3 separate regions of the Homo sapiens genome follow, and regions 1 and 2 are each linked to region 3. The links come from fine-mapping of genetic effects on plasma protein levels. A gene starts in region 3. Each other region holds a variant in brackets. All regions are shown on one strand. Distances are from middle to middle.

Evidence for each region. PIP is the posterior inclusion probability: the model's chance that the variant is causal. Protein levels are from antibody-based Olink assays in UK Biobank. Linkage for the fine-mapping came from a reference panel and not from the study's own genotypes, which makes the PIPs less certain.
Region 1: its variant is fine-mapped to the plasma level of the PXN protein (UK Biobank, PIP above 0.99). The variant lies in the coding sequence of PXN. If it changes the protein, the assay may bind it differently, which can mimic a change of level.
Region 2: its variant is fine-mapped to the plasma level of the PXN protein (UK Biobank, PIP above 0.99).

The regions. Positions count from the first base shown.
Region 1 is chr12:120,221,502-120,230,872 of GRCh38, reverse strand. It overlaps PXN (paxillin), which reads left to right. Exons shown (of 15, transcript NM_001385981.1): 2 at 6,496-6,722; 3 at 7,040-7,155; 4 at 7,874-8,010; 5 at 8,123-8,324; 6 at 9,115-9,250. It overlaps LOC124903034 (a long non-coding RNA gene), which reads right to left. Exons shown (of 3, transcript XR_007063487.1): 2 at 6,470-9,371; 3 at 5,452-6,393. Among named protein-coding and RNA genes, the nearest start is that of PXN-AS1, 25 kb to the right of the region's middle. RefSeq lists enhancers at 862-1,421, 2,490-2,579, 3,773-4,453, 4,470-4,519, 5,137-5,818 and 1 more and silencers at 733-1,027, 2,270-2,379, 5,333-5,627, 5,936-5,985. The variant A/G (reference allele first, on the strand shown) is at 6,699.
Region 2 is chr12:120,129,855-120,139,499 of GRCh38, reverse strand. GCN1 (GCN1 activator of EIF2AK4) reads left to right here. Exons shown (of 58, transcript NM_006836.2): 46 at 644-805; 47 at 1,085-1,177; 48 at 1,456-1,599; 49 at 1,686-1,955; 50 at 2,181-2,294; 51 at 2,768-2,998; 52 at 4,774-4,967; 53 at 5,095-5,209; 54 at 7,478-7,574; 55 at 8,167-8,315; 56 at 8,747-8,854. Among named protein-coding and RNA genes, the nearest start is that of RAB35-AS1, 18 kb to the right of the region's middle. RefSeq lists enhancers at 6,193-6,392, 6,603-6,652. The variant G/T (reference allele first, on the strand shown) is at 1,755.
Region 3 is chr12:120,261,541-120,271,191 of GRCh38, reverse strand. It overlaps PXN (paxillin), which reads left to right and starts at 5,462. Exons shown (of 15, transcript NM_001385981.1): 1 at 5,462-5,575. The coding sequence starts at 5,563. RefSeq lists silencers at 5,155-5,434, 5,595-5,744.

The DNA.
Region 1 (9,371 bases), 40 kb after region 3:
CCTAGTCAGTGTCCAGGCCCTAGGTCCCTGGGCTGGGGGTGGGTGGGGCAGAGTGGATCTGGCCTAATTGTGGATTGGCCCTTACTGAGGACAGACGGTTATCAGGATAAATATACCCAGCTCACCATTCCTGGGGACTTACTCACCGAGTGAAAGCACCCCGCTGCGGATTAGATTACCTCTGCTCTAACTGCTCATGTGCTCTGGGCTGGGGGAGGGGAGGGGAACTTGGAGCCAGGGGGAGGGGGGAGACCCGCCTTCCCGTTCTGTTTTCCTTCCTAATCTGGAAGAGTCTCACCAAAGGGGCTGAGATGAGACCATCCCTGAGCTGGTCCTGCTGTTTACATAGCTCCTTCCTTAGGAAGGGCCAAGCCCTGCTCACTGCTTATATCCCTGAGCGTGGGCAACTGTAAGGAGGCCGCAGCTTCTCTGACACTCAGAGCTACCAAGGCTGCCCAGGTGGTCATCAGGGGGTTGGGAACCTCCCTTGTCCAGAGTTCTGGACCCAACAGGATAGACAGGCCATGAGGCTGGGCATCCCCAGACCCCCTAGGACAGGGACTTGTTTCTCTGGGAGTCTGGGTTTCCTATCAGATGGCAGGGATGGACAGCTGGCCCAGGGCTGCGGGGAAGGCCCCTGTGCTATGGCAGCCCGTTGCTGCTGGTGCTGGAGCTTTCAGGGCGGTGCTTGCTGCTCCTTCCTTTGGCTTGTCAGCTCCTAAGGAAGCTGCACTGGCCGCTCCCTGCCTGGGGCAATGAAAGCTGAGTGAAATTGGCCTGCAGAAGAAGGTGGGTGAAGGGGCTGGAAAATACCTTGTTCTTACGTGGGCCTCTCCTGGGCCAGGCCTCGAGAATGCAAGGCGTGCTAAGGTGGGGCGCTGCCTGAGGGCCACAGGACTATACCTCTTCTAGTTCTGCCTGGGGCTGCTGGTGGAGGAGTCCAGAATGGCAAAGGTGGGCAGGGACCACGGGGCCCTGGCGCTGGGGCTGGTGTGGCAGGGCAGCCTGTAAACTCCAAGAAGGGATGGAAAAGCTGGCTCCATGCCCCACATTTACCTGCTTCCTGCTGATCTGGGACTAGAGGGCAGCACCCTTTGCCCTCAGGGATTGGATAGGACGGGGAGGTGATTTCTTTCCCCTCCTAGGGCTTAACACCTCCCTGGGAAGAAGCTTGTAATCTATTTAGCAACTCCCATTTCCTGTGTGCTGTATTCCAGGCACTGTGCTAAGTCAGCACTTTATATCTTTTTCTCATGTAGTCCCAATCCTGTGAGTAAAATGGTGGAATTCCTATTGGGCAGACAAGGAAACTGAGGCACAAAAGCAGTTAAGCAGCCTATCCGAGCAGTTCAGCCATTGAGCAGAGCCCAGGTGACTGAGGATTCACCGTACAAGTTGTAACACTGAAAGTCCTCAGAGCCTGGGAGGAGAGAATGGAATCGCTCTGGGTCCTCCCACCCCCTCAGAGAGATGGACTTTTATCTCCTCTCTCTTGGCACCTGTCCAGCTCCAGGCCTCTGGTCTTGATAGTCTTTATCACACACTAAGAAGTGGCAGGGGCTTAGGTAGGAGGAAGCAGCCTGGCTTGTTTCTGTGCTGCAGTCGGGGGTGGGGGCGGAAGGTTTTAATTGATTCTCTTTAATCTGATATTGAGTGCCATGCGTCAGTGGATCAACCGGGGTCCCCAGAGCCACAGTCTGGGGGACATCCCCCCATTGTAGGTACAAGGGGACCCAGGTTTCCTTCCACCCGGAGCCCCTAGGTGGGTACAGGAATGTGAGGGATGCAGCTGCAGCACTTGCCCTGGAATGCAGGCGAACCGGTCCCCTCCTCCTCGGAGCAGTGGGCTGAGGGTGTCTGTACCTTAACCCTCCAGCGGCTCCCACCGGTTGTAAGGATTACGCTCAGTCAGTTGCTGAGGCCCAGGGAAGGGCTTCTTCCTCTCAGCCTGGCCGTAGTGCACTGTTTCTGCCCAGCCACCTGCCCCAGGGCGGCCTCCCGACCCAAAGCTGCAGCTGTTCCATGCTGTTGCTCCGACCAGGTGCAGCCATGGGGTGCAGATAGGGGCGCACACGGTGCTGCATTTGCACAGGGCCCTGGAAGCGAGGGCGTGCACCCCTCTGGTTCTCCAGAGCCCTGCATGTCACCCTTGGGTTGTGCCTTCAAGTGATACCAGGCTACCTGTGTTCCTCCCACTAGCTTGCTGTGTTCCTCCAGCTCAGCCTTGTTCTCTAAGGATAGAAACTTCCCCACTGCGCCCATGGCCAGGGGCTCCCCAGTCTTCCCCGGCTAGAAAATTGCAAGATTGCACGAGGTTACCCAGTGGCAAGAAGCTGACGGGCCAATGGTGCCCTCTGGTGGGGAGCAGCAGACAGTCTGCACCCCTTCCTCACCAGGGCGGAGCCAGGACATAGCTCCGTGGCCTTTGCCCATGGCTCGCTGGGGACTTTGCACCTAGCCTGCCCTCAGCCTCGAGACAGCCTGGCCTACCTCCTCATGTTGCATACTTCCGCTGGCCCAGAGAGACAGAAAACCTGCAGAATTCAGGGTGGGTTTCCTCCAGAAAGTGGTTGGGAAGCCCCAGAGAGAGAGCTTCCTCCTTCAGGGTGACTTGGGTCTGGAGGGCCCCAGGCCTGGACCTGGAAACTTAGTAGAGTAATGCCAAGGAAATTTGAGGCCTTTCTTAGCTTGAATGAGGTCTCCCGACTACTTCCGAGCAGCGTGTCTGGAATCTGTCCTCCCAGCATGTGGGAAGGGAGGGTGTATTCCTGGTCTTGAATGGTTTCAGTGGGTACCATTTTCTCTGAAGAGTGGATAGCCTGACACCTTCTTTGGGGTATGAGGAGCAGGAATATTTAGAGCAGAGGGAAAGGCTGGAGCCGGACACTGGGGGACCCCGCTGGGATGGGGCTCTGCCTTCAAGTGGACTCCTTCCTGTGTGCAGTGTCTGCCAGCTCTGTTTGCTCAAGCCAGGGGGGACGTTTGCTGAGCTTGCAAGGGGACTCTGACCCTTAACCATTTTGCAGCCTATGGGGAAGTCTCAGGTATTTGCACCCATTGGAAATCAAAGTAAAGCTAGGAGTCTACTGTTGGCTTGCCTCCTGTATTTCTGGTTTTCTTTCTTGAGGAGTTTGTGGGGGGTTTGGAGGCACCAACCCCTACCCCTCTTGCCTAGTCCTTGCCTGTCCAAATCACTAGGTGAGAATGAAGGGTGGAGAGAGAGGAGGAAGCCATACCAGAGACCCTGTGGCTGGTGGATGGACTTGCTGGGGTTTTTCTCTGTCCCTCAAATAGACAAAACTTTGGAGAAAACTGAATAATGATGTGCCTTCTCCCTGACATCTGCACTCTATGATTTGTTCGTTTGTTTTTAAGACAGGGTCTTGCTCTGTCACCCCGGCTAGAGTGCAGTGGTGCAATTGTAGCTCACTGTAGTCTTGACCTCCTGGGCTCAAGCAATCCTCCTGCCTCAGCCTCCTGAGTAATTGGGACTACAGGCGCATATCACCACACCCAGCTAATTTTTAAATTTTTTGTAGAGATGGGGTTTCACTGTGTTGCCCAAGCCGATCTCCAACTCCTGTTCTCAAGTGATCCTCCCACCTCAGCCTCCTGAATAGCTGGGACTATAGGCATGCGCCACCACACCCAGCTAATTTTTAAATTTTTTGTAGAGACAGGCTCTCACTGTTTTGCCCAGGCTGGGACATGCTACAATTTGAATGTTACTTTATTACTTTTCTTTTCTTTTCAAGGTTGCCCTTTTCATGGTTTGCTCATATTCTACCCAGAAAAGACTTAGGAGACTTAGAAGAAGTTAGTACTTTGCATCCTACCTACACTGCTCTCCTTGGAGGAAGACCTTATTCTGGATTTTACAGAGCAAATCAGATCTGATGTTTGTAGCTTCCAATGTGCTATGGAGCTTCCTCCTGCAGAGTGACTTGGGTCTGGAGAGCCTGATATTTGCAACTGATGTCTGCAGCTTCCAGTGTACCTGCTAGCCCTTATAAACCTCACACCAGTACTTTGAGGTCAGAGTTATTCAAGAGCTTACTGAGACAACAGGCCCTGAGAAGCTAAGCGATTTGCCCTGTGGCATGGATGGTAGAGAGGGGAGCTGGCACTTGAACTCAGGTCTGGCTCGACCTCAGAATGAGTGATCTTGTGTCTCTGTGCCCCAGGACTGCATCCTCTCACCAATACTTCACCAGCCTAGGGATCTGTGCTCCCAAGAGCCTGTTGACATTGTAAACCTGAATCCAATCCATAAACCAAAAGCCCAGGCTTAGAATCACATTGTGGTGGAGCGGGTGTTTGGTGGAGTCCCTGATTCAAAATGTTTGACAAGGAAGCCTGACCATTTGTCTTCTGTTGGGTGTTTGGAGTCCAAGAGACCTGAGATCAGAGTCCAGCATTGTCACTTCATCCAGCCTTGGCAGTGTGGGATGTGACTCTGCCTCTGAACCGCAGTTATACCATCTGTGCTGGTGGCGTTGTGAGGATGGCAGGTAACAAAGGTGAAGCTCCTGGCCCCAGTGGGCCTTCAAGGATGGCAGCTGCTCCTGCCCCCTACTGGGGTTGCACTCATTCGTTGCCTGCTCTGGGGAGTCCTATGGGGTTTCTTAGCTGGCCCTGCCCATGGTGGAGAAAGAGGGATCCACCCATTGCTGATTGGGCCCAGAGGAAATGAGGACACTGCGTGAAGCCAAGACAGCAGGTGTGGCCCTGGAGAGGCCGTGGGGATTGGCCTGGACACTGGTTCCTTTTCTGCCGTTACCTAGATACCTACCAACTCCCTCTAGTTCCGGTTTGCTAGAGACAGGAAGCCAGGCCTCCTCCATGGGACCCGGAGGGCGGGGCGGGCTGTAGGACCTGAACTTCCTTGGAGGTCAGGCGACCAGACCCGGGGTCCTGGGCCTTGGAACAGACATCCCCTCTGTCCATCTGGGCAGGAGCATGGGGTAGGTGTGGCCAGCCTTGAGGGTAGGAGATCAGGACAGGCAGCTGGGACAAGGTGTGGCCCCATAGACCGAGGCCCTGGGTGAGGGCCTTGCTTCTCTATTCCCTCCTCTGAACACAGGTTGGGGGACTGGGAGCAAGGCCACAAGGAAGGATCACACTGGCAGGCCTCACAGCTTGGGCCTCCAACATTCAGGAAGTTGAACCCTTTAAGTATGGCATCATCTGGTAGTCATAGTGGCCTCTTACAGGCCAGGTTTTTGGGGTTTGGGGCTTCTGAGGAGTCAGACAATTGTGCCACTCACTGGCTTTGTTATTTGGAGCAAACACCTCTGACCTCTGCCTCTCCAAGCCCGGCTTTCCTCATCGCTTCGGGGAGAATCATTTCCAGCTACAGGGGGTATTAGGGGGATTAACGGAGACCTCGTACATGCTGCTAGAATGCCTAGCAGTCTGCCTGCTACTGATAAGTGGCAATAAACGCAGCCATTGCTTTTTAGATGTTTATTATCCTGAGGGCTAGGGATCAAGCTGTCAGCTCCCTGGACCCAGCAGGTTACCGGGGAGCTGAGAGCAAGCAAGTTGTGAACGGGGCAGGAATGAGGGTGTGGCATCCAGGGCCAGGCTGTCTGAGCCGTGGGGCTGTTGAGGGTCCCAGGAGGGGATGGAGGAAGTGGGGGTCAGCAGGTCCTACTCCTGCCCTTCTATACCCTTCTTTTCTGGAGACTGGGGAGACCTAGTGCCCCCCTGTTGGCTGCCAGGTGCCAGGGTAATGGAAGCTTACACTAGAGGGCTGATTTGGCTCCCTTGCCGCTGTTAAAAGCAGAACAGTGGGGGCCTGGAGCCTCTGGGGCCGGGCTGCTTGCCAGACTTCCGCAGAAACAGCCAATGGAGCAGTCTTGCCCCCTGCTCACTGAGGGGGTGGGGACCGCTGCACCAGCCTCACTCCAGCCCCCACCTCCCCGCACACCTTACCCCATAAGCCTAGAGCCTCAGGAGGAACCTGGAGCCTGGGCTTCTGCTTCCACCTGGTTAGGAGGGCAGGGACCATCCTGAGTGCCCCTTCCAGTCGGGGGCTGGGAAAGCCTAAGCTCTTAGAAATCAAGTGAGGGCCTGGCATAGCCAGGGCCCCTCCCTGTGACGTGGGGCCCCTCCCGCCCATTCTCTCCGCGTTGCCCTGCAGATTCAGAGTTCCAGACAGGCACTTCACTCGCGGCTGCGCGGCCCTGTCAGGAGGGAACGCAGTGCCAGGTGCCTGACTCCCAGAGGTAGGAGATCCCACAGGGCAGCCCCAGAGCCCGCCTCTAGAGCACTTTCAGTCCTGGGTGGCCAGAAGAAGTTAGCTTTGGGAGCCGGCTCTTGGTTAGGCTGGTCGGGGCTGGTGGCTTCCTGTCCCAAGGCTGGTCATTTCTCCCATGGGTGGGGCAGGTGCTAGAAGGCATTAACTCTTGAGGTGCAGGCAGGGAGGGCCCTGCCACGGGAGAGTCCCCAGGATCCCGGTTCTCACCTGCTACCCGTGCCTTCTCTTTGCAGACGCCCTGCTGGCGGACTTGGAGTCTACCACCTCCCACATCTCCAAACGGCCTGTGTTCTTGTCGGAGGAGACCCCCTACTCATACCCAACTGGAAACCACACATACCAGGAGATTGCCGTGCCACCCCCCGTCCCCCCACCCCCGTCCAGCGAGGCCCTCAATGGCACAATCCTTGACCCCTTAGACCAGTGGCAGCCCAGC[A/G]GCTCCCGATTCATCCACCAGCAGGTGAGGCGGGGACAGTGGCTGGGAAGGCCAAGGAGGCTGGGGGACAGAGGGAACTTAGCTGGCAGGGGCTTAGGGAGCCAGGGGATGGAATGGAATTGGGGCAGTCGACCCTTCCCAACCAGACACTGCTCTTCCCACTCACCACGTGAGTGGAACAGTGACCAAGTGGTTAATCACAGGTTTCCTGGCCCAACTGTGGAAATTCCCTGGTGAGACTGGCTGTGGGCAGGAGCCTCCTGGGGGTGACTGGAGCTGCTCCTGGCCCCTGTTCCTTTTTCTCCCCTCGGGGTAGCCTCTGAGCATTCTCCTTCTCGCAGCCTCAGTCCTCATCACCTGTGTACGGCTCCAGTGCCAAAACTTCCAGTGTCTCCAACCCTCAGGACAGTGTTGGCTCTCCGTGCTCCCGAGTGGGTGAGGAGGAGCACGTCTACAGGTACTGCCCCAGTCTGCCCAGGGCACCTTCCCTCCTGCTTAGAAATCTCAGGGACCTGGCCAGGGTGGGAGGCAGCGGAGGCCCGGGAGCAGGCATAGCAACTGGGCCTTGTGGGGTTATTCTGGTTTAAGCTGCAGAAGGCCTGTCGGTGGGCCCGTCTACCTCATCAGTGCCATCTCCATGCAGTGGACATTCTGGGCTATCACAGCATCTCCGTGTAGCTGAGGAACTGAAGCAAGACTTCATTCCTCCCCTCTTCTTTTTTTCTTTTTTTTTGAGACGGGGTCTCGCTCTGTCACTCTGTCGCCCAGGCTGGAGTGCAGTCGCGCGATCTCGGCTCACTGCAAGCTCCGCCTCCTGGGTTCACGCCATTCTCCTGCCTCAGCCTCCCAAGTAGCTGGGACTACAGGCACCCACCACCACGCCTGGCTAATTTTTAGTAGAGACGGGGTTTCACCGTGTTAGCCAGGATGGTCTCAATCTCCTGACCTCATGATCTGCCCGCCTCAGCCTCCCAAAGTGCTGGGATTACAGGCGTGAGCCACTGTGCCCGGCCTCCTCCCCTCTTCTTACCACATCCCTTCCCTACCCTCTGTCCTCTTGCGGGGGAAGACTTCGCATCTCCTCTGCCTTGTTCTCCTTGGGAATCTGGGAACTGCCAAGCCAGTACAAGGCCAGAAAGCATCTCTCACTATCTTCTTTCCTTTGCCTCTCAAAGCTTCCCCAACAAGCAGAAATCAGCTGAGCCTTCACCCACCGTAATGAGCACGTCCCTGGGCAGCAACCTTTCTGAACTCGACCGCCTGCTGCTGGAACTGAACGCTGTACAGCATAACCCGCCAGGCTTCCCTGCAGGTAGGACCGGGTCCCTGGGGCAGGGTCTACCAGGGCCCAGGGCCCATCTGCTGACCTCTAGATCCCAGGAGGGCTCAAGGGCTGAGCAGCCTTTTTCTCTCCTCTCTGCAAGATGAGGCCAACTCAAGCCCCCCGCTTCCTGGGGCCCTGAGCCCCCTCTATGGTGTCCCAGAGACTAACAGCCCCTTGGGAGGCAAAGCTGGGCCCCTGACGAAAGAGAAGCCTAAGCGGAATGGGGGCCGGGGCCTGGAGGACGTGCGGCCCAGTGTGGAGAGTCTCTTGGATGAACTGGAGAGCTCCGTGCCCAGCCCCGTGTGAGTACCCACTGGGCCCTCCCCAGGTGGGGAAGGGCTGGCCCAGCCTGCCCCGGGTCCAGTGTCTGTCCCCTTAGCCCTGGTATCACCCACTCCCTCCCGTGTCTGCCATTTGCCAGGCACTGGGGGGATAGTGGTGAGTCACATGGACACCATCCCTGCCTTCAGCCAGTCACTGCCAGTCAGAAAGGACAGACGTTGTGCAGGCTGAGGGCGCCTGGAGCTTAGCAGCTCTTAGCACAGGCTTTGGGGCCACACAGTGGGGTTCACATCTTGGCTCTGACAGTTACTGTCAGCTCTCAAGCCTTAGTTTTCCCATCTGTAAAATGGGACAAGAACTTATGGGATCACTGGGATAAGACCACCTACCTCAGTAAGGGTGAGAACCAGTAATCCATGTAAAGCGCTTGGAATGGTTTCTGGTGTGTAGTGCGTGGCACACATGGTGAGTGCCCAACACGCGAGCTCTTACCAGTGCCGTCGTGTTACTGCAGTAGCCTCACCTCCATGTCCAGTGTTGTGGAGGAAACACAGGGCGCTTGGGCTTGTTTCGCAGGCCAGCTTTCACTTGGGCTGGGGGCTAGAGGAGTCTTCCTGGCACTTCCTGGTGCCATTGAACTGCCCTTTCTTCTGACCCAGTGATGGGTCCCCAGGAGAGACAGGGAGCTGGTGGACCTCCCTGGGGTTGGGGATGGTGAGACCCCAGTGTCCGAGGTGAGAGGTCGATCTGATCCCCGGGAAGTGTGGGGCTGACTGTGGGCTCCCCACTGATGCTGTGCCCACCCTGCAGCCCTGCCATCACTGTGAACCAGGGCGAGATGAGCAGCCCGCAGCGCGTCACCTCCACCCAACAGCAGACACGCATCTCGGCCTCCTCTGCCACCAGGGAGCTGGACGAGCTGATGGCTTCGCTGTCGGATTTCAAGGTGCCCTGTGAACCCTCCATCTTCCCTGCCCTGCCGCCCCTCCCTCATCCTTCTCCTCCCTTACCTCAGTGTGGGTAGCTGGATCTTGGCATCTCAGTGTTTGGGTGCCTTGCCCCTGAGC
Region 2 (9,645 bases), 130 kb after region 3:
GTGCACCACCACACGTAGCTAATTTTTGCATTTTTAGTAGAGGTGAGGTCTCACTATGTTGCCCAGGCTGGTCTCAAACTCCTGGCCTCAAGTGATTCTCTTGCCTCCACCTCCCAAAGTGTTGGGATTACAGGCGTGAGCCACTGTGCGCGGCCCCTCTCTACTTTTTAATTTTTTTAAAATTTTTAGTTTAAGACAATCTCACTCTGCTGCCCAGGCAGGAGTACAGGGGCACCATCTCTTTTGGCTACAGCCTCTGCTTCCTGGGTTCAAGCGATTCTTGTGCCTCAGCCTCCTGTGTAGCTGGGATTACAGGTGTGCACCACCACACCCAGCTAATTTTTGTATTTTTAGTAGAGATAGGGTTTTGCCATGTTGACCAGGCTGGTCTCGAACTCCTGGCCTCAAGTCATCCGCCCACCTTGGCCTCCCAAAGTGCTGGGATTACAGGTGTGAGCCACCGTGCCCGGCCCCTTCTCTCCTTTTTTTTATTTCACAGTAAAGAGTTAAGTTAAAAGACAAGTCAGGCAAAGAGAGTTAGGGTGGCCTAGCTGGGTCAGAGTCCCCTGCCTGTGCTTCTTGTCTGCTTCTGCTCCTTCTTTGCCTTTCCTGCATCTGGTACAGTTGTAGCTTGCCATTGCAGGTGCTGTATTTCTCTGAATCCCTCGTGCCCACGGCAAGGAAGGCTTTGTGTGACCCACTGGAGGAGGTCAGAGAGGCGGCAGCCAAGACTTTCGAGCAGCTGCATTCCACCATCGGCCACCAGGCTCTGGAGGACATTCTCCCATTTTTACTAAAGCAGCTGGTGAGTGGATCTACCACACACCTACCTACCAGTTTGGCTTTTGCCGTCTTTGTAGATGGAAAATACAGGGCGATTATTCTGCCAAGGCAGTCGCAATGTGGGCCCTCCAGAGGGAGTGGGTATAGCAAGATCAGACTTGGCTTTGTGCTTCGCCTTCGGCAGTGAGGAAATGTGGGTGCAACAGGAGGGAGGGAAACAAGTGGAGAAGGAAGTTGGCGGTGGCTGGTTGAGACAGCAGAGATGCAGATTCCTCAGGGTTGTCCCCAACACCCTCTGCAGGATGACGAGGAGGTGTCAGAGTTTGCCTTGGATGGTCTGAAGCAAGTCATGGCTATTAAGAGTCGTGTGGTGCTGCCCTACCTTGTGCCCAAGGTAAATCCCAACATGTGGTCAACACCCTCTGGCTCCAGGGCATTGACATTTCCAGGGCCTGCAGTGAAGACCAGTTCTGAACGTAGATGTTGGAGGGCTGGGGGAGGAGGGTGCAGTGCAAGCATTACATCCTTCCCCTGTTGTCTTCCAAGATATGCTGGAGTAGATGCTTGGCTCTGAGCAGTGGGCTTGGGCTCTCTTGCCCACCCGTCTGTTCCCAGAGCCTAGCGCAGCACCTGGCACAGTATTCACTGAGTTAATGTTTGTCATTCCACCAGCTGACAACGCCACCTGTCAACACCCGGGTGCTGGCTTTCCTTTCGTCAGTGGCTGGTGATGCCCTCACCCGTCATCTTGGCGTGATCCTCCCAGCGGTCATGCTGGCCCTGAAGGAAAAGCTTGGGACCCCAGATGAGCAGCTGGTAAGGGGCGAGCCTGCTCCTGCTTTCTCATGTCCCGTCTGCCCGGAGGATCCCTGCTCAGCACACATGTCCCTTGTGGTTTGCAGGAGATGGCCAATTGTCAGGCTGTGATCCTCTCCGTAGAGGATGACACAGGGCACCGGATCATCATCGAG[G/T]ATCTGCTGGAGGCCACCCGCAGCCCTGAGGTGGGCATGAGGCAAGCTGCTGCCATCATCCTCAACATCTACTGTTCCCGCTCAAAGGCTGACTACACCAGCCACCTGCGGAGCCTGGTCTCGGGCCTGATCCGCCTCTTCAATGACTCCAGCCCTGTGGTTCTGGAGGAGAGCTGGGATGCCCTAAATGCCATCACTAAGGTGAGGGGACTGCTGACCCCACAGCCAACTTTTGCTTTTAGAAAATTCCAGACATTTACAGGAATAGACTTATAAGAATCCCCCACGTACCTGTCACTCAGCTTCGGCGTTTACCCACTCGTGGCAAGTCTTGTTTATACTCCCGCCCACGCTTTCCCCATATATTCTTTGGAAGCAGTCTTGAGAGGGCTGTACATCCTCTCGCTTTTTCCTGGATTCCTGCAGAAGCTGGATGCTGGCAACCAGTTGGCACTCATTGAAGAGCTGCACAAGGAAATCCGGCTCATAGGGAACGAGAGCAAAGGCGAGCATGTGCCAGGATTCTGCCTCCCGAAGAAGGTAAGCCAGGGCCTCGTGCAGGGGGCTGTGGGCGTGCAGTCTGTTGTGCCCTTCTGGCCCTTACCCCTGTCCCAGGTCTGCGGTAGGGGCTGCTGGAGCAGTAGCCGTGGTGGTTGGTGTTCAGCACCTTCGCAGACAGCATGTTTTCTTCCATGGCAGTCAGATGGGGACAGGGTTCATGCTGCCTTTGGTTTAAGCTCTGCAGGTCACCTTGGCCAGAGTGAGTGGGCCACAGGGTAACAGCAGTGCATGTTCTCTCTGTGTGATAGGCCTGTTGGGGCCCTTGTCGTCTTTTCTCTGCCAAGACCGTTCCATAGCCAGCCCTCTCAGGCTGTGATCCTGAGATTCAGCCCAAATCAATATCTCCCATGGAGTTGAGGGGAGGACAGCTGTCAGGACCACTTTGCTTGCATGGGAGACACCAGGGCCCAGGGTGTTTGAGATTTGACTCTCAGTTGTGGTTCTCTTGTCAGGGAGTGACCTCCATCCTTCCAGTGTTGCGGGAAGGAGTCCTGACTGGCAGCCCTGAGCAGAAGGAGGAGGCAGCCAAAGCCTTAGGCTTGGTAATCCGCCTGACCTCGGCTGACGCCCTGAGGCCCTCCGTGGTCAGCATCACTGGCCCTCTGATCCGCATCCTGGGGGACAGGTTCAGCTGGAATGTGAAGGCGGCTCTGCTCGAGACACTCAGCCTCTTGTTGGCTAAGGTGAGTGGCTGATGAGTTTGTTCAGATCTTAGAGAACAGGTCTGTCTGCAGGAGCCTGATACAAGGTGTCATGTAGCAGCAGGGCAACAGATTTATTGTGGAGAGCCGCATAGCAGAGGGAGGTAAGACCTTGGACTTCAGACATGCTACACCATGGGTCAATTCCAAGTCGTCCTTACTAGCTCTGTGACCAGGATGACCTTGGGAAAGCCATATAACCTAAGCCTGTTTCCTCACCTACAATGTGAGACTAATAATACCAGCTGCCTCATGAAGGGCTGCTAGATATGGGGATTAGATGAGGTTATGTCCAGCATGATGCCTGCTACATACTAAGCACTCAGTACATGTGAAATGCTATTATTTTGAAAAACTACTTTTTCAAAGGAAAAAATTCAGGACCACGTAAATACAAGGAAAACATTGTTTAAAGATATTGCAGTTTTTGTTTTTTTTTGTTTTTTGTTTTGTTTTGTTTTGTTTTTGAGACAGAGTCTAACTCTGTCACCCAGAGCTGGAGTGCAGTGGCGCGATCTCGGCTCACTGCAACCTCCGCCTCCTGGGTTCAAGCAATTCTTCTGCCTCAGCCTCCCAAGTAGCTGGGATTACAGGTGTCTGCCACTACACCTGGCTAATTTTTTTGTATTTTTAGTAGAGACAGGGTTTCACCAGGCTGGTCTCGAACTCCTGACCTCGCACAGCTCAGATTTACCAGCTCCCCCTATCCCCTTTGTGTGCCTGCCACAGCCTGCACACCCACCCAACTCCAGTATTTCCAGACCTTCATTGGCACTGAACCTCCAAACAGTCACTCTGGTTTTCCTAATTAACAATAAGTAAGCCGGGCGTGGTGGCTCAAGCCTGTAATCCCAGCACTTTGGGAGGCCGAGGTGGGCAGATTACCTGAGGTCGGGAGTTCGAGACCAGCCTGACCAACATGGAGAAACCCTGTCTCTACTGAAAATACAAAATTAGCCGGGCATTGTGGCGGGTGCCTGTAATCCCAGCTACTCAGGAGGCTGAGGCAGGAGAATTGCTTAAACCCGGGAGGCGGAGGTTGCAGTGAGCTGAGATCGCGCCTTGCACTCCAGCCTGGGCAACAAGAGCGAAACTCCGTCTCAAAAAAAAAACAAAACAAAAAACAGTAAGTAAATCTTTACTCTTGGACCCACCTGTATTGTATCAAAAGTGTGCCTGTGTTTCTGTATAGTCAGGGGTTGAACTGGATTTTTAGTTAGGTGGGTACACATTTGTGCAGGGAGGATTCTCCAAGGTCATTTGTTTCACAGGCTTGTTCTGAGGGCTGAATGTGGAGTGCGTATCCTGCTGTCAGTTGCTCAGTAGATGGGCTCTGCAATTATACACTGAGTCCCTTTCCCTGTCTTGGCATTAGAACTGTGCTTCAGTACTGCCGATAGTCTGCCCTGCTTGTTAATGTATTCAGAGGAGGATTTGAGTCACTTATCGATATGGACAGGTCTCCACTAAGCCAAACCCCAACGCAGCCAAGGCTGCGAGACAGCTCCCTCAGATAGCGGCCGCCGCCTCCTCGGCCTCCTGCTCCTCCAGTGTATCAAAGCATGCTGGATATGACCAGGAGGCCAAGCGAAACCTGTCTGTGTTTGGCCTCTCTGACGGGCTATCTGTCCCCAGCCCTGTATGAGAGCTGGACTCGCTGTGGTGGTTTGGGATTGTCATTTGTTCTCATGCCTGTGGTACACTGTGGCTTTGGGTCTACCACAACTGTCTTTCATGGATGTGGGTTCCTCCCACAGGTTGGGATTGCCCTGAAGCCCTTCCTGCCCCAGCTGCAGACCACTTTCACCAAAGCCCTGCAGGACTCCAACCGGGGGGTGCGCCTGAAGGCCGCAGATGCTCTGGGGAAGCTCATTTCCATCCACATTAAGGTGGACCCCCTCTTCACAGAGCTGCTCAATGGCATCCGCGCCATGGAGGACCCAGGTGTCAGGTACGGCGCTGGCAAGGGAGCACTGTGGCCTCCAGGAGGCCAGGGGTTGCTGTGGGCCGAGCCTGCGCTGGCAGGAGGGGTGGTGGTGGAGGCACCCAGGGCTTAAGGCGGTGCATTGCTTCTGCAGGGACACCATGCTGCAGGCCCTGAGGTTTGTGATTCAGGGAGCAGGGGCCAAAGTGGATGCCGTCATCCGGAAAAACATCGTCTCACTCCTGCTGAGCATGCTGGGACACGATGAGGTACGGCTGCAGGCAGGACTAGTGGCAGCACTGGACCACTGGTTTCCCTCCTCCTCCTTAGGTTGAGTTCTTCACTTTGTGTTAGAACCAGTACAGCTCAGTAGTAATAAGCATTCCTGACATTTCTATCACCCTGTATGCTTCACCAACATTTCCTCGGGTTTCAAGGGAAACGGGGCAGGTATTGTGGATATATTGGTTATTTCCGTTTGTTTGTTTGTTTTTTGGCTGAGTCTTGCTGTGTCACCCAGGCCGGAGTGAAGTGGCACAATCTCGGCTCACTGCAGCCTCCGCCTCCTATCAAGCGATTCTCCTGCCTCGGTCTCCCGAGTAGCTGGGATTACAGGTGTCCGCCACCATACCCAGCTAATACTTGTACTTTTAGTAGAGATAGGGTTTCACCATGTTGGTCAGTCTGGTCTCAAACTCCTGACCTCAGGTGATCCACCCGCCTCGGGCTCCGAAAGTGCTGGGATTAACAGGCATGAGCCACCGCGCCCGGCCGGTTATTTCTATTTTATAGATGAGGCAAGTAAGCTTTGTAGAGACCCAGACCTCTCACCTATTTGCTCTCTGATCTTAAAGAAGTCACTTTCTCTGTCTGCCTCTCATTTCCACTTTTGTAAAATGAAGAGGTTTATTTATTGTTTTGTGAAACATTTGCCGAGCTAAAGGGCCTATCCCAGAGGTGCATAGACCTCGTGGTCACAGACCTCAAGAAACTTAGTGTGTAGTGGGATAAATGGTCTCCAGGGTGTGTCCCGGTGGCAAGTCTTAGAGGTCTATTTTCGAGGGTGAGACTTGTCTGGGCCATACCCAGCAAGTAGTAGAGTCCAAACCAGAAGCCCTGGACTCCTGGTTCTGTCCCAGTTCCATCAGCCTCACCTAGTCTGGAAGCATCTGTCAAATATTTGGCTGCGAGCACTGTGGGGCCAGTAGGGAGTTGAGTCTATGGAGAAGAGTTTTCTGTTCCCTTTTCAGACAGCCCTCTGTTGTGGTCTAATTTACTTTGTAGGGCCAATCTAGGAGGAGAGGGCCTTTGGGCTCACATGGTTTTACACGTCATTGACACACACACACACCCACACACACTCCTCCTGCCCACACCTGCAACACACACACTTGCTGCTGCACTTCCCATGGCTCCAAAGGCCTAGTTCTGGTCCCCAGGCGCCAGCTGTCGGACTCCAGCCCCAGCCTTCTCTGTGGGGACAGACAGGAAAGTCTGCTGTCTTGGTCACAGTCTTTCAGGGCTTCTACAGAGTCATGTGTACAGTGCAAGCAAAAGTTAGTATTGAAACATATTTGCATTTTACCACAGTGCAGCTTAAAATAGATGAAGTTGGAGAGAGTCGGTGTCAGAGCCAGCTTTAGCTTGGCACCTGGGCTTCTGCTTCGAGCTCAGAGGCCCAAACTGCTGGCAGTCCATTCTCTTACCCTCTGAACCTCCACTCAGATTGAAGGTGGCAGTTCAGGGTGCCAGCCTGGCATTAGCTTTTTGGGTTATTGAGTCCCTGGTTGGTGGTTTGTTTTGGGGACATGTTGAGTTGGCACCTGTAATAAGGAACATAACTTAAAATCCTCTCTTGGTATTCCATAGTTAGCTGGCCAGGGAGGAGCACGGAGCCGCTCGCGTACCTGGCTCTGATTTGAACAGGAAGTGCTTGCCTTTCCTTATCTTCCTTGGCTTGATTAGTGGCTTTAGTTTGACTTCCTAGGATGAACCCAAGTAATTTCGGTGGCAGTGGGGCACTCATGCAGTAGGGAGATAGCAGGAGTCATTCTGGCCACAAGATGACACAAACTCTGTGGGAGAAAGGAGCTCAGAGTGGCCGTCTCTAGCCGGCTTCCCTGGTGGCTGGGGGCAGGTGCCTCCCCTCCTGCCCCTCCCGCCCCTCCCTGCCTCACAGGGCTGTTGATAGTAATTGAGATAATAAATATGAAACATTCAGCCTTCCTAAGAAGAAAGATGCTATGTAAATACAGTTATTACTGCTATTACAAGGATGATTACCATATGCATACACACTGGGGTTTTCTATAATTAAGTGAAGTGCTGGCTGTGTAATGTTTAACTCCATACCAGTGGCAGCCCAATCTGGCAGGGGAGCACGAGTGCCTACAGGAAGGACTGGATCTTGAGTCTCTGAGTTGGCTTTTCCACCTTCTTTGTTGCTGTCCATCCTGGGCTCTAGAGCTGCCTGCCTTGGTTCCCACACAGCTGGTGTTGTTCCCTGCACCCCCTCACTCCCTTCTCTTCCCTGTCAGGACAACACTCGCATCTCCTCAGCCGGGTGCCTAGGGGAACTGTGTGCCTTTTTGACTGAAGAGGAGCTTAGTGCCGTTCTACAGCAGTGCTTGCTGGGTAAGTACACTGGAGAGTTCCCCTTCAGGGACCTGGGCCTCTCAGCCCTAGCGAAGAGTCGACGGGCATCTCCCTCCCTCCCTCAGAGGATCTTTTAGCAACTGGACTGTCCTTTCCTTGGGAATCCAGCAGTTAAAGCAAAATCCAGGCCAGGGGTGGTGGCACTCACCTGTAGTCCCAGCTACTCAGGAGGCTGAGGTGGGAGGATCAGTTGAGCCCAAGAGTTGAAGGTTGCAGTGAGCCTTGATCACGCCCCTGCACTCTAGCCTGGGCGACAGAGCGAGGCCCTGTCTCTAAAACAAACAAACAATACTGAATTTGCAGTGGTCCCGTAGCCCTGAGTGTCTCTGCTCAAAGAACACAGCTGTAAGCCCGGAGTGGTTCATGAGCAGGCTTTCCTTACTTTCCTTAATGTGCCACTTTGGGGAGCTTCTGCCAAGATAGCAGGGAGGTCCATGTGAATGTGGCCTGGAGTTTTCCTTGTGCTCTGGGTCAGCACACTGGTCTCCAGCGGGGTGGGCCCATGGGCCTCATGGGTGCTGGGGACATGCTGTAAAATACCGGTTGATCCCAGTCGTGTCCTTCCACCCAGCGGACGTGTCCGGCATTGACTGGATGGTTCGGCACGGGCGGAGCCTGGCACTTTCCGTGGCTGTGAATGTGGCTCCTGGCAGACTTTGTGCCGGCAGATATAGCAGTGATGTTCAGGAAATGATCCTGAGCAGTGCCACGGCGGACAGGGTAAGGCATTCGGGCCATATCCCATAGGCATAGGCCACATCCCATAGGCAGCACCTTGTGGACACAGCGCGGGTGGACCCCAGACTGGGGCTTAAGAAGCTTGGGTCTAATTTTACCTTTGTCAGTAACTTGCTGTGCCCTTGGACCAGCACTTGATCCCTTTGGGCCCCAGTTTCATCATCTAAACAAGGAATTTGGGTTGAAGAATCTAGATGCCCCTTCTGGGTCAGGTCTTGGATCCCTGTTCCTGGGAACCAGTGACTGTACTCATCTGCCTCAGCCGGGGCAGCCTGCCTGAGAGCTGTCATGGTGTAAGGGGTGATGTGGTGGTGATGTAGTGGAGGGTCCTGGAGATTACTAGGAACTGGGGTTTTCCTGGCTCTGGGGAAGGGGTGGGGGGCCTCCCGTCTAGCGCTGTCTGTTCTCCACAGATCCCCATTGCGGTGAGCGGGGTCCGGGGCATGGGCTTTCTCATGAGACACCACATCGAGACAGGCGGAGGGCAGTTGCCGGCCAAACTTTCCAGCCTGTTCGTTAAGGTGAGTGGGGGCCAAGCATGTGTTTAAGCCCTAACACCTGGCTTGTGAGGAGGTCCTAGGATCAGAGACCACCAGCAGTGCGCCCTCAACTAGTTGTGTGCTAGTTCTCCGTGGACGGCCTCCAGGAGATCGCTGAACACTTAGGGATGGAATGTAGGGGGTTTCTGTGTGTGCTTTACACTGCAATAAAGCCTAACTTTTTGTCAGATTCTCAAATTGACCCGTGACTCTGAATCAAGTTAGGAATCGCTATTTTAGGCATTCTTTCTAGGCACCGTAGTTTTGTAAAATTAGATACAGACCTGGGTTCCCATCTTAATACCTCTCTTTTCCCTCCTTCCTCTTCTAGTTGGCCCAGCACTTCTTGGTGTGGTTACTGTGCTATGTGCCAGGCCCTAGTTAGGAAAGCCAAGGAATGTGCCAGCAGGGCTCCTGTGGCCCGTGTGATATGGCGTGCTTCTGAAGCATTACTGTGCACAGAAGTCAGAGCCAGGGTGTATTTTAGTGAGATGGGGCCATGCCTGGTACTCTAACCAGCTCTCAGCAACAGTGTCAGTGGTGCTGTGCATGGACCTTGCCTTGAGTAATGAGGTTCCCAAGAGTGACTGCCTCCCCCCGCAGCACCGGGAACCCACGGAGTTTCTGAGGGGCCTGATTCGATTGAGCCTCGTCTGTGATGACATCAGCCTGCACCCGCTTGTTCACTTGGCATTATCCTGAAGGTGTAGAGATGAACAAGGCAGACAGGATCCCTGGAGCCCATGGGGAGGACCCTGATATAGATAAGATTG
Region 3 (9,651 bases):
CAGTGGCTCATGACTGTAATCCCAACACTTTGGGAGGTAGAGGTGGGCAGATGGCTTGAGCCCAGGAGTTCAAGACCAGCCTGGGCAACATGGCAAAATCTCATCTCTACTAAAAATAAAAAATATTAGCCAGGTGCGGTGACATGTGCCTGTAGTCCCAGTTACCCAGGAGACAGAGATGGGAGGATCACTTAAGCCTGGGAGATTGAGGCTGCAGTGAGCCTCAGTCTCACCACTCTACTCCGGCATGGACAACAGAGTGAGACCCTGTCTCAAAAAAAAAAAAAAGAAAAGAAAAGAAATGTGGCTATTTGGATTGAGATGTGCTGTAAGTGTAAAATACACATTGGATCTTGAAGACTTCATACAAAAAAGAGTAAGATATCTCACTGATATTTTGTTATATTGATTACAAGTTGAAATGATAACATTTAGGATTTTTTTTTTTTTTTTTGAGACAGAATCTTGCTCTGTCGCCAGGCTAGAGTGCAGTGGTGGGATCTCAGCTCACTGCAACCTCTGACTCCCTGGTTCAAGTGAGTCTCCTGCCTCAGCCTCCCGAGTAGCTGGGATTACAGGCACGTGCCACCAGCTAATTTTTGTATTTTTAGTAGAGATGGGGTTTCACCATGGCCAGGATGGTCTTGATCTCCTGACCTTGTGATCCTCCCGCCTTGGCCTCCCAAAGTGCTGGGATTACAGGTGTGAGCCACCATGCCCAGCCAACACTGAGGATATATTGAATTAAATAAAATATATTATTAACATTAATTTTATCTATTTTATTTATTTATTTTGAGATGGAGTCTCACTCTGTCCCCCAGGCTGGAGTGCAGTGGTGTGATCTTGGCTCACTGCAAACTCCACCTCCCAGGTTCAAGCGATTCTCCTGCCTCAGCCTCTGGAGTAGCTGAGATTATAGGTGCCCACCACCATGCCCGGCTAATTTTTGTGTTTTTAGTAGACCAGGCTGTTAGCCAGGCTGGTCTTGAACTCCTGACCTCAGGTTGTTTGCTCACCTCGGCCTCCTAAAGTGCTGGGATTACAGGCATGAGCCGCCGTGCCCGGCCATATATTTTTTTATTTTTTATTTTTTGAGATGGAGTTCTGCTCTTGTAAGCCAGGCTGGATCTTGGCCCACTGCAACTTCCGCCTCCCGGGTTCAAGCGATTCTCCTGACTCAGCCTCCCAAGTAGCTGGGATTACAGGCATGTGCCACCACACCTAGCTAATTTTGTATATTTAGTAGAGATGGGGTTTCACCATGTTGGTCAGGCTGGTCTCAAACTCTTGACCTGAGGTAATCCACCCATCTTGGCCTCCCAAAGTGCTGGGATTACAGGCATGAGCCACCGTGCCTGGCCTGTTTCTTTTATTTTTTTAAAGATATTTTTTAGAGAGGAGGTCTTGCTAGTTTCCCAGTTTGGACTCAAACTCCTAAACTCAAGCAATCCTCCTGCCTCAGTATCCCATGTAGGTGGGACTACAGGCATATGCCATTGCACTTGGCTAAAAAAGTTTTGATTGGGCCGGGCGCGGCGGCTCACACATGCAATCCCAGCACTTTGGGAGGTGAGGCAGGTGGGATCACCTGAGGTCAGGAGTTCAAGACCAGCCTGGCCCACATGGTGAAACCCCATCTCTACTTAAAGAAATGCAAAAATTGGCCAGGCGCGGTGGCTCACGCCTGTAATCCCAGCACTTTGAGAGGCCGAGATGGGCGGATCACGAGGTCAGGAGATCGAGACCATCCTAGCTAACACGGTGAAACCCCGTCTCTACTAAAAATAGAAAAAATTAGCTGGGCGTGGTGGCGGGCGCCTGTAGTCCCAGCTACTTGGGAGGCTGAGGCAGGAGAATGGCATGAACCTGGGAGGCAGAGCGTGCAGTGAGCCGAGATCGCGCCACCGCACTCCAGCCTGGGCGACAGAGCAAGACTCCGTCTCAAAAAAAAAAAAAAAAACAAAAACAAAAATTAGTCGGGTGTGATAGCGGGTGCCTGTAATCCTAGCTACTCAGGAGGCTGAGGCAGGAGAATCACTTGAACCCGGGAGGCAGAGGTTGCAGTGAGCTGAGATCATGCCGCTGCACTCCACCCTGGGCGACAGAGTGAGACTCTGTCTCAAAAAAAAGAAAGAAAAAAAAGAAAAGTTTTGATTGCATATCCGGCTTGCATTCTGTTTCTTTTCTCTCTCTTTCTTTCCTTCCTTCCTTCCTTCCATCCTTCCTTCCTTCCTTTCTTCCTTCCTTCCTTCTTTCTTTCTTTGTTTTTTTTTTTGACAGAGTCTCACTCTGTCGCGCAGGCAGGAGTGCAGTGGCACAGTCTCGACTCACTGCAACCTCCGTCTCCTGGGTTCAGGTGATTCTCCTGCCTCAGCCTCCTGAGCAGCTGGAATTACCGGTGCACACCACTATGCCCAGCTAATTTATATATTTTTAGTAGAGATGGTGTTTCGCCATGTCGGCCAGGCTGGTCTCGAACTCCTGACCTCAAGTGATCCGCCCGCCTTGGCCTTCCAAAGTGCTGGGATTACAGGTGTGAGCCTGGTCGAGTTCTGTTTCTATTGCTGAGTGAAGAGTGTTATTTTGTGGTGACAAGGACCATTCTAAGTACTAGGTGTGTCGTTTCTTATTTAGTCCTATGAGGACTCTGAGAGGTAGCTACTATTAACCTTTCTATAGGGGAAGAAACTGAGGCACAGAGTAAATTGCCCAAGATGAACCACTAGCAAGAAGTCAGCAGGGTTGTCCATCTGCTCTGTCAATGTCGTTTAATCTTTAGGAAGAATGAAAAAACCTGATTGATTTTATCAAATGCAAGGGACTGAATGTTCATATCCTTGAAAATTCATATGTTGAAATCTAATCTCAATTCGATAGTGTTAGGAGGTGAGGCCTGACAGGTGATTAGGTCATGAGGGCAGGGCCCTCATGAAAGAGATTAGTTAGTGCCTTTATTAAAGGGACCCTCTTTGAGCCGTGTGAGGGTACAAAAAGTCAACAGTCTGCAACCCAGAAGAGGGCCCTCACCAGAACCTGACTGTGCTGGCACCCTGATCTTGAACTTTCAGCCTCCAAAACTGTGAAAAAATAATTTCTGTTGTTTATAAGTCACTCGGTCTACAGTATTTTGTTGTAGCAGCCTGAACTAGACACCAAGTTTAATTGCTGTGGGGTGAGAGTCCAAGGGAAGAAGGAAGCCAGGGAGGAAATGGGGGTTTAGGAATGATTTACATGAGGAAATCCCTGGCAGGGACCTGAGTGTTCGAGTGCACCAGCACTCAACTCTGAAGCTTCAGTTCTCTTTAGAACTCTGCATAGCAATGGGAAACTTGCCCATTCAATGGGTGCCTCGCATTTCCAGACCACACAGCTTTGAAAAAGAAAGGTTTTAGACCTTTGGAGAAGTGGACAAGCGTATGCCCTGGGGTTGGTCTAAGTTGTTAGCAGTTTCACTTAGCCGTTTCATAACCAGGCCTTGGCATAAGCCTCCCCAGGTTCAAATCTCAGTTTCCTTACTTATTAGCTGTATGACCTGGAGTAATTCAACCTCTGACTCTCAACTCTTCCAGCTGTAAAAGGGGCTAACAATGCTCATCTCCTAGGCTTGTGGTCAGTATTAAATGTCTTGTCTACAGACCTTTGCACATGCTGTTCCACACAGCTGGGAGTGGGGCGAGGCTACTCATCCTTCATGCTAACCACTTTGCTCTTTTGCGTGCACCTTTAGATTCAAGAAGGTAGACATCATGTTAGTCTTATTCATCATCCCAGCCTACGCAACAAAGCAAGACTGTGTCTTAAAAACACAAAAACAGGCTGGGCGTGGTGGCTCACACCTGTAATCCCAGCACTTTGGGAGGCTGAGGGGGGCGGATCACCTGAAGTCAGGAGTTCAAGACCAGCCTGGCCAACATGGTGAAACCCTGTCTCTACTAAAAATACAAAAATTAGCCAGGCATGGTAGTACACGCCTGTAATCCCACCAGGAGGCAGGAGATCACCTGAGATCAGGAGTTCAAGACCAGCCTGGCCAACATGGTGAAACCCCATCTCTACTAAAAATACAAAAATTAGCCAGGCATGGTGGTATGCGCCTGTAATCCCAGCAGGAGGCAGGAGAATCACTTGAACCTGGGAGGCGGAGGTTGCAGTGAGCTGAGATTGCACCACTGCACTCCAACCTGGGCGACAGATTGGGACTCCATCTCAAACAAAAACAAAAACACAAAAACTAAAACAAAATAGAGGTATGTGCAAGATGCTGGAAAACCACGCAATAGAGTGTTTGAGGAACAGTCTTTGGTCTTGAATTTATTATAGGAGAATGTGGCAGCCACAGAAGCTGCTTGGATCTGCCTTTATAAAATGACTGAACATGGTGGGAGCATTGGAACCCGGATACTTCTGCCCAAGGAGACTTCTCATTTTTTTTGTCCTGGAATTCCCTGATGGGTTGACCTGTTTGTCAGATCTGAGTCTCCTTGCCCAACCCTGCTTATTTCCCCTTCTCTGTCACGGGCATTACCCCTAGCTTTATCTCAGCATCTCATCTGCTTTCTGGAGGACCTGATCTGACCCAGAAGGCCTGGATTCTTGAGGGACAAGGGGAACTCGAAGCTGTACTTGCAGAGCAGTTTTATATAAAATCCACAAACTGCCATCACCCATCCCAACGGGTAGGGAAGTACCTCTAGGAGGATTAATTTAGAGAATAGCTATATAGTGTCTGTCTATTCAGACACTCAATAAATGGTAGTTGTTATTATTACCCAATTTCCGAGTGTGTGGGAGCACTGGGTGTGACTTTCCTGTAGTTTTCCCTTTAATGTCTAATCTGGGGACCCCTCTGCCCCATGCAGTTTTGGAAAAGTGTCTAGGGAGGGTGGCTGTGTGGAAGTAATATTAAGAGAGATGGAACCACACAGGTATTGGGTTTGGGCCAGAAAGGGTGAACTGCGAGCTGCACTGCCATTGATCCAGAGGACGACCCCAGGAAAGGTCAGCCACGGGCTCCGGGCCTTGCCTGGTACTGATTTATGGTCCTCCTGGGTGGTGACCTACAGGTGACAGACGGACAGGTGGGCAAAACTGACTGTCCAGTGGACAGGCATGTGATGACCCAGTGGCTGACGAATGCACAGACACATGGCTGACTGTGGACGGATTTGTCATCCGCAGGGTCAGGCAAGTGACTTTGAGAGGGACAGAAAGATGGATGGGAGTGGCTGGAGGCCTGGGAGCCGCCCACCTGCCCGCTTAGCCGCGAGGGGGCGCCACCGCCCCGCCCAGCGACGCCCACTGCCCGGGCTCTTGGCGGGGGCGGGACCAGCGTGCGCAGGGGGCGGGGCCAGCAAGCTCGCGGGGGTGTCCGGGGGCGGGGCGCGCGTGCACAGGGGGCGGCCGGGGGCGGGGCGCGCGGCGGGCGCGGGCGCGGGCGCGCGCGGCGGCGGCGCGTTCCGTTCCGGGCCGAGGCTCGCGGCGGAAAAGTTGCGGGGCATAGACGAGCGGCCCCGGGACGGGCAGCTAGCGCGACCCTGAGCCGGCGCCCGTGGTCCGGCCATGGACGACCTCGGTGAGTGAGCGGGAGGCCGAGGGAGGAGGAGGCGAGAGGCGCGCAGCTTGGGGCCAGGAGGGCGCCAGCGAGCGGCAGGGGCCGCGGGATCCCACCCTCGGCGGCCCCGGCCTCAGCTCCTGTCCCTGCCGGCCGGGGCTCCGCGGGGCTGGGATCCCTAACCGGGCCTTAGTCTCGGGCCAGGCCGGCCCCGGCACCGACCGCACAGCAGCGACCCCCCGTCTGGGACGGCTTCACCTCTGGACCCCCGACCTCGGGGACCCATCACCATCTCCCAGAAGGGCCCCAGGGACCAGCCCGCCCCTCAGGGACCCACCCCGTCCGCTGCAGGGACGAGACTTCCTGCGGCAGACCACCTCGTCAGCTACGGGACCCTCACCTCGCAGACCTCTCCCCACCCCCACCTCACAGATCGACCGCCCAACTCGGGGAGCAGCTGCCCGATCTCATGGGCTGCTCCCTCATTTCCTCGACCTGCTCCCCGTCCCTCCAGGGCCGCCCCCCACTTCACAGACTAGCACCCCCCTTCAGGGATAACCCCTCGGAGCCCACCCCTTTCATTTCACAAGTCAGATGCAAAAGCTAGAGATGAGCGTGTGATGACCACACCCCCATTTCAAAGACAAGTTTCCCAGTCTGCCTGCTCTTCTGACCCCCCACTTCAAATCTGGTCACCCCGTTTCAAGGACCCATCACTCATTTTCTCTCACTGACCTCCCCGCTCTGTGGACCAGCCCCTCAATTCACAGACCAGTCCGTCTACCATGGTATCTAAGTCTAGAACGGTAATTTGGGAGTCCTGATTCTCTCCCCACCCCTAGATTCTGGTGAAATGCCAGGGGAATGAGGTGGAAGGTGGGCCCCAAGGTATGACCATCCCTGAACGTGTCCTGGCTAGCAGAGTCCCCTCCACCCTCTCTGCGTCAGGCCCTGCTGGAAGCCACGCAGGTGAAAGAGGACAGGATGCCCAGAACAGAGTTTTACTGTTTTCCTGTTATTGGAGCCCCAAGGCTACTCTTTTCAGTCCAGTCTTGATCTGGTGTTAGGGGAAAGAAAGTATCTCCTGGAAGCCGACTCTAAACCCAAGGGGGTTGGTGCCAGGGTTCTAGGAATGCCTTGGGTGGCGTGAACGCAGGAGTGGGAGGATTCGCTGTCTCTCCCTCCCCTTCACGCCTGTAGCTGGAGGGCCCTGAGCTTGGGAGGTGAGGAGGGGGGCAACGTTTCTTCTCTGCAGGAGCCTTGTCTTTCCTCTCTGGACTGTGGGTGGCTTGTGTGACCACTGATGCTTCCTCTGTCCCAGGCTCTGAGGAGTAGATTCAGCAGACAGGACTGATGGACCTCTACCAAGCAGCGCCGGGCACTAAGTTAAGACTGGCTATTTGTAGGTGCTGGACTTGACTGCTTCCCTCCAGCTTCCTTTTGGGATCAGGGTGCCCCTGAGATCCTGGAGCTGGGGTTGGTGTAGGGTCCTGCCTGTTTTGCAGAGTGAGATGGCTGCCAAGCGTGGTTCTGCCTTTGGGTCAGGCTTGGCACCCATTTTTCCAGTGTGCTCAAGGTTGGCATGGCTTCCAGGCAGGTATTTTTTTTTTTCACATAAAAATAGCTCAGCTGGAAGGAGGCTGGGGGATGTTCTTTGAACCAGGATCTAAGAGTCTGAGTGCTTTCCCAGTGGGAACTGGGAGCAAAGTTACAGTTTCTAAAGTGCTGGTGCAGTTCTGTTGCTTCTCGGCAGTCCCCGTGCTGTTTCAAGGACTGAGAAAGTCTTTGTAGAGCTCGCCATCGAAATCTGGAATTCCTGTCTTCTGACAGTCTTCCATTTAGGGCCAGGAAACTGAGTTCTGAAAGGAAAGAGAGTACTGTATACGGGAGAGGGGATTGTAGGGATTTAAATTGCTGTTTGTGGAGTACTTCCCTCTACCTCGATTTGTGATATCCTCACAACAACCCTTTTATCAGATTCCACCTTAAAGCCAATGCTGTCATGACCACCTGCCTTTTTACAGATTGAGAAAGCCGAGACGAAGAGAGGCTGATTCTCTTGCCCAAGGCTGCACAGCCATGAAATGACAAAACCATAACTGGAAGCCCAATTCCTAGCTCCCAGATCTGTGGCTCTTGTATACCGAGAAGACTTTTTTTCCTGGGGAGGAGGCAAGGGCACTTGAAGGAGGGGTTGCCACTGGGTGATGGCGATCACCTGTAACTTCTACTGCTTTCTACCATAGACTCCCAGTTGCTTACATCCGGGCTGCCCGACTTCCTTGGCCTGAGCTCCCAAGGGGCAAGCCACGCCTGACTGACCGGAGCCTGGGGTGGGAGGAATGGGGTGTGCAGGAGGGGAGAGGAATTTGCCTTTGCACTGGGGCCCCGTCAGCTGTCTGGATGGCGGCTCAGCACACTGCCATCAGCTGTTTTCCTTAGGGTGGCTCAGCTGTTTTCCTTAGGGTGGACACAAAGCCCAGACCTCTTGTTTTTATTTTTCTCCTGAGCGTGCTCTCAGCCGTGTGCCTCCTGGTCCCTAACACAGGGGAGAGTTTATGGTGTGTCCGGTAGCAAGGCCAGAGGGTGCATCACCTCCTCTGTGACTTTGTTTTTTGGTCTAATAAAAAATGGGGAACTCTTCTCCTTCCCATAGTTGCCAATGACAGACTCACCATGTGCTGCTTAATAAGTTACAAATTTATAGCTCTCTGAGCAGAAAAATATCAACACAGCGTGTTCTGCCCTTCCCTGTGTGTTCTCTCCACTTTGTTCTTTGGGGTGGCTGCTTGGTGGCTTTTCTTATTACTGTTTAGATGCTGGTTTGGCCCAGAGTTCGCTCTGTTCAAGTTCTGGCCGGAGTTTCCTGGACAGAGTTCCCACAACACTGAGATGCACTCTGACTGTGTTTTCTAACCCGATTGCTTGCTCTTCCTCTGTTCATGTTCTCAGTGTACTTGGTGGGGGCTTTGACCACAACTGTGGTCTAATCATGATCATGTGCGCTTCATGGGAGACAGGCACTGTACTCAGCACTTTACGAGCTGTATCACAACCTTTCAGAAAGGGAGGTGTTTTCGCTCCACTTTATACATGTGGAAACCTGAGCTCAGGGAAGTTTAGTGGTAGTGCTGGGATTTGAACCCAGGCTCATCCAATTCCAGATCCGGTTATCTTAATCATCATAAGGTGGTAGGTGCTGGTGACTAACCAGGGGGATGAGCCTTGGGGCCTGCTGAGTAATTGATAGTTACCTTTAACAATCTCTGCCCTAGGGGCCCATCCCAGGAAATGGCAAAGGGTGTGTCCAGTGCAAGACTGGGTAGCTTTGCCTTCCCATCCTCTAGCAGGGGGAACAGCCAGCTGTTGGCAGTGCCCAGTTGCTGCTGGAATCTGGACATGTCTTCTTTCAGCTTCTCAGCAGTCTTGACCCTTTGGAAAACAGTGCCTCATTGTCCTTGGGGGTAGTGCTAGGGGGGCAGAGGAGTTGCCTGGGGCATTGGGAGCTATGGAGCCTCCCTGTTTCCATGGAAAGTCTGGACTTTGGGCTTTCCTGTCTGTGGTCCCTCTGTGTGTTAGGGCAGAGTCAGGGCACCCAGCTGCTGGGCGTGTGGCAGAGGCGGCATTTACCCATGCAGCGATAGTGCCCTCCTGGTGGGCTCTGCATCAGTGCCAGACCTTCTCCTGGGCTTGTGCTAGTAAGGGGCAGAGCTGGGATTCAAACCTTGGTGGGTTTGATTCTTCAGCGGGTACACTTTCTGATATGTGAAGCTGTCTGCTGCCTGGGCAGACATAGCTTGATGGAGAAATGCTCAGCCTACTGGAACCCAAAGCCCTGTCACTATAGGTTCAAGGTCTTTTGAGGGAATATCTCAGTATTCCTTTTTTCCAGCTTCCCTAGTGATGGTCATGCATTGAAGAGACTGGGTGTACCCTTGGCTGGAGAGGCTGATGGAAGGCCAGAGTTATTGGTGGGCCACTGAGCAGCCCTCCTCTCCTATTTAGTCATCCTGCTTGGAGTATCTGACTCTGAAGCTTCTCTTGCGTCTTTACCTCGCTCCAGAGATGTTGAATAAACTTCCAGCCTCATTGCAGCC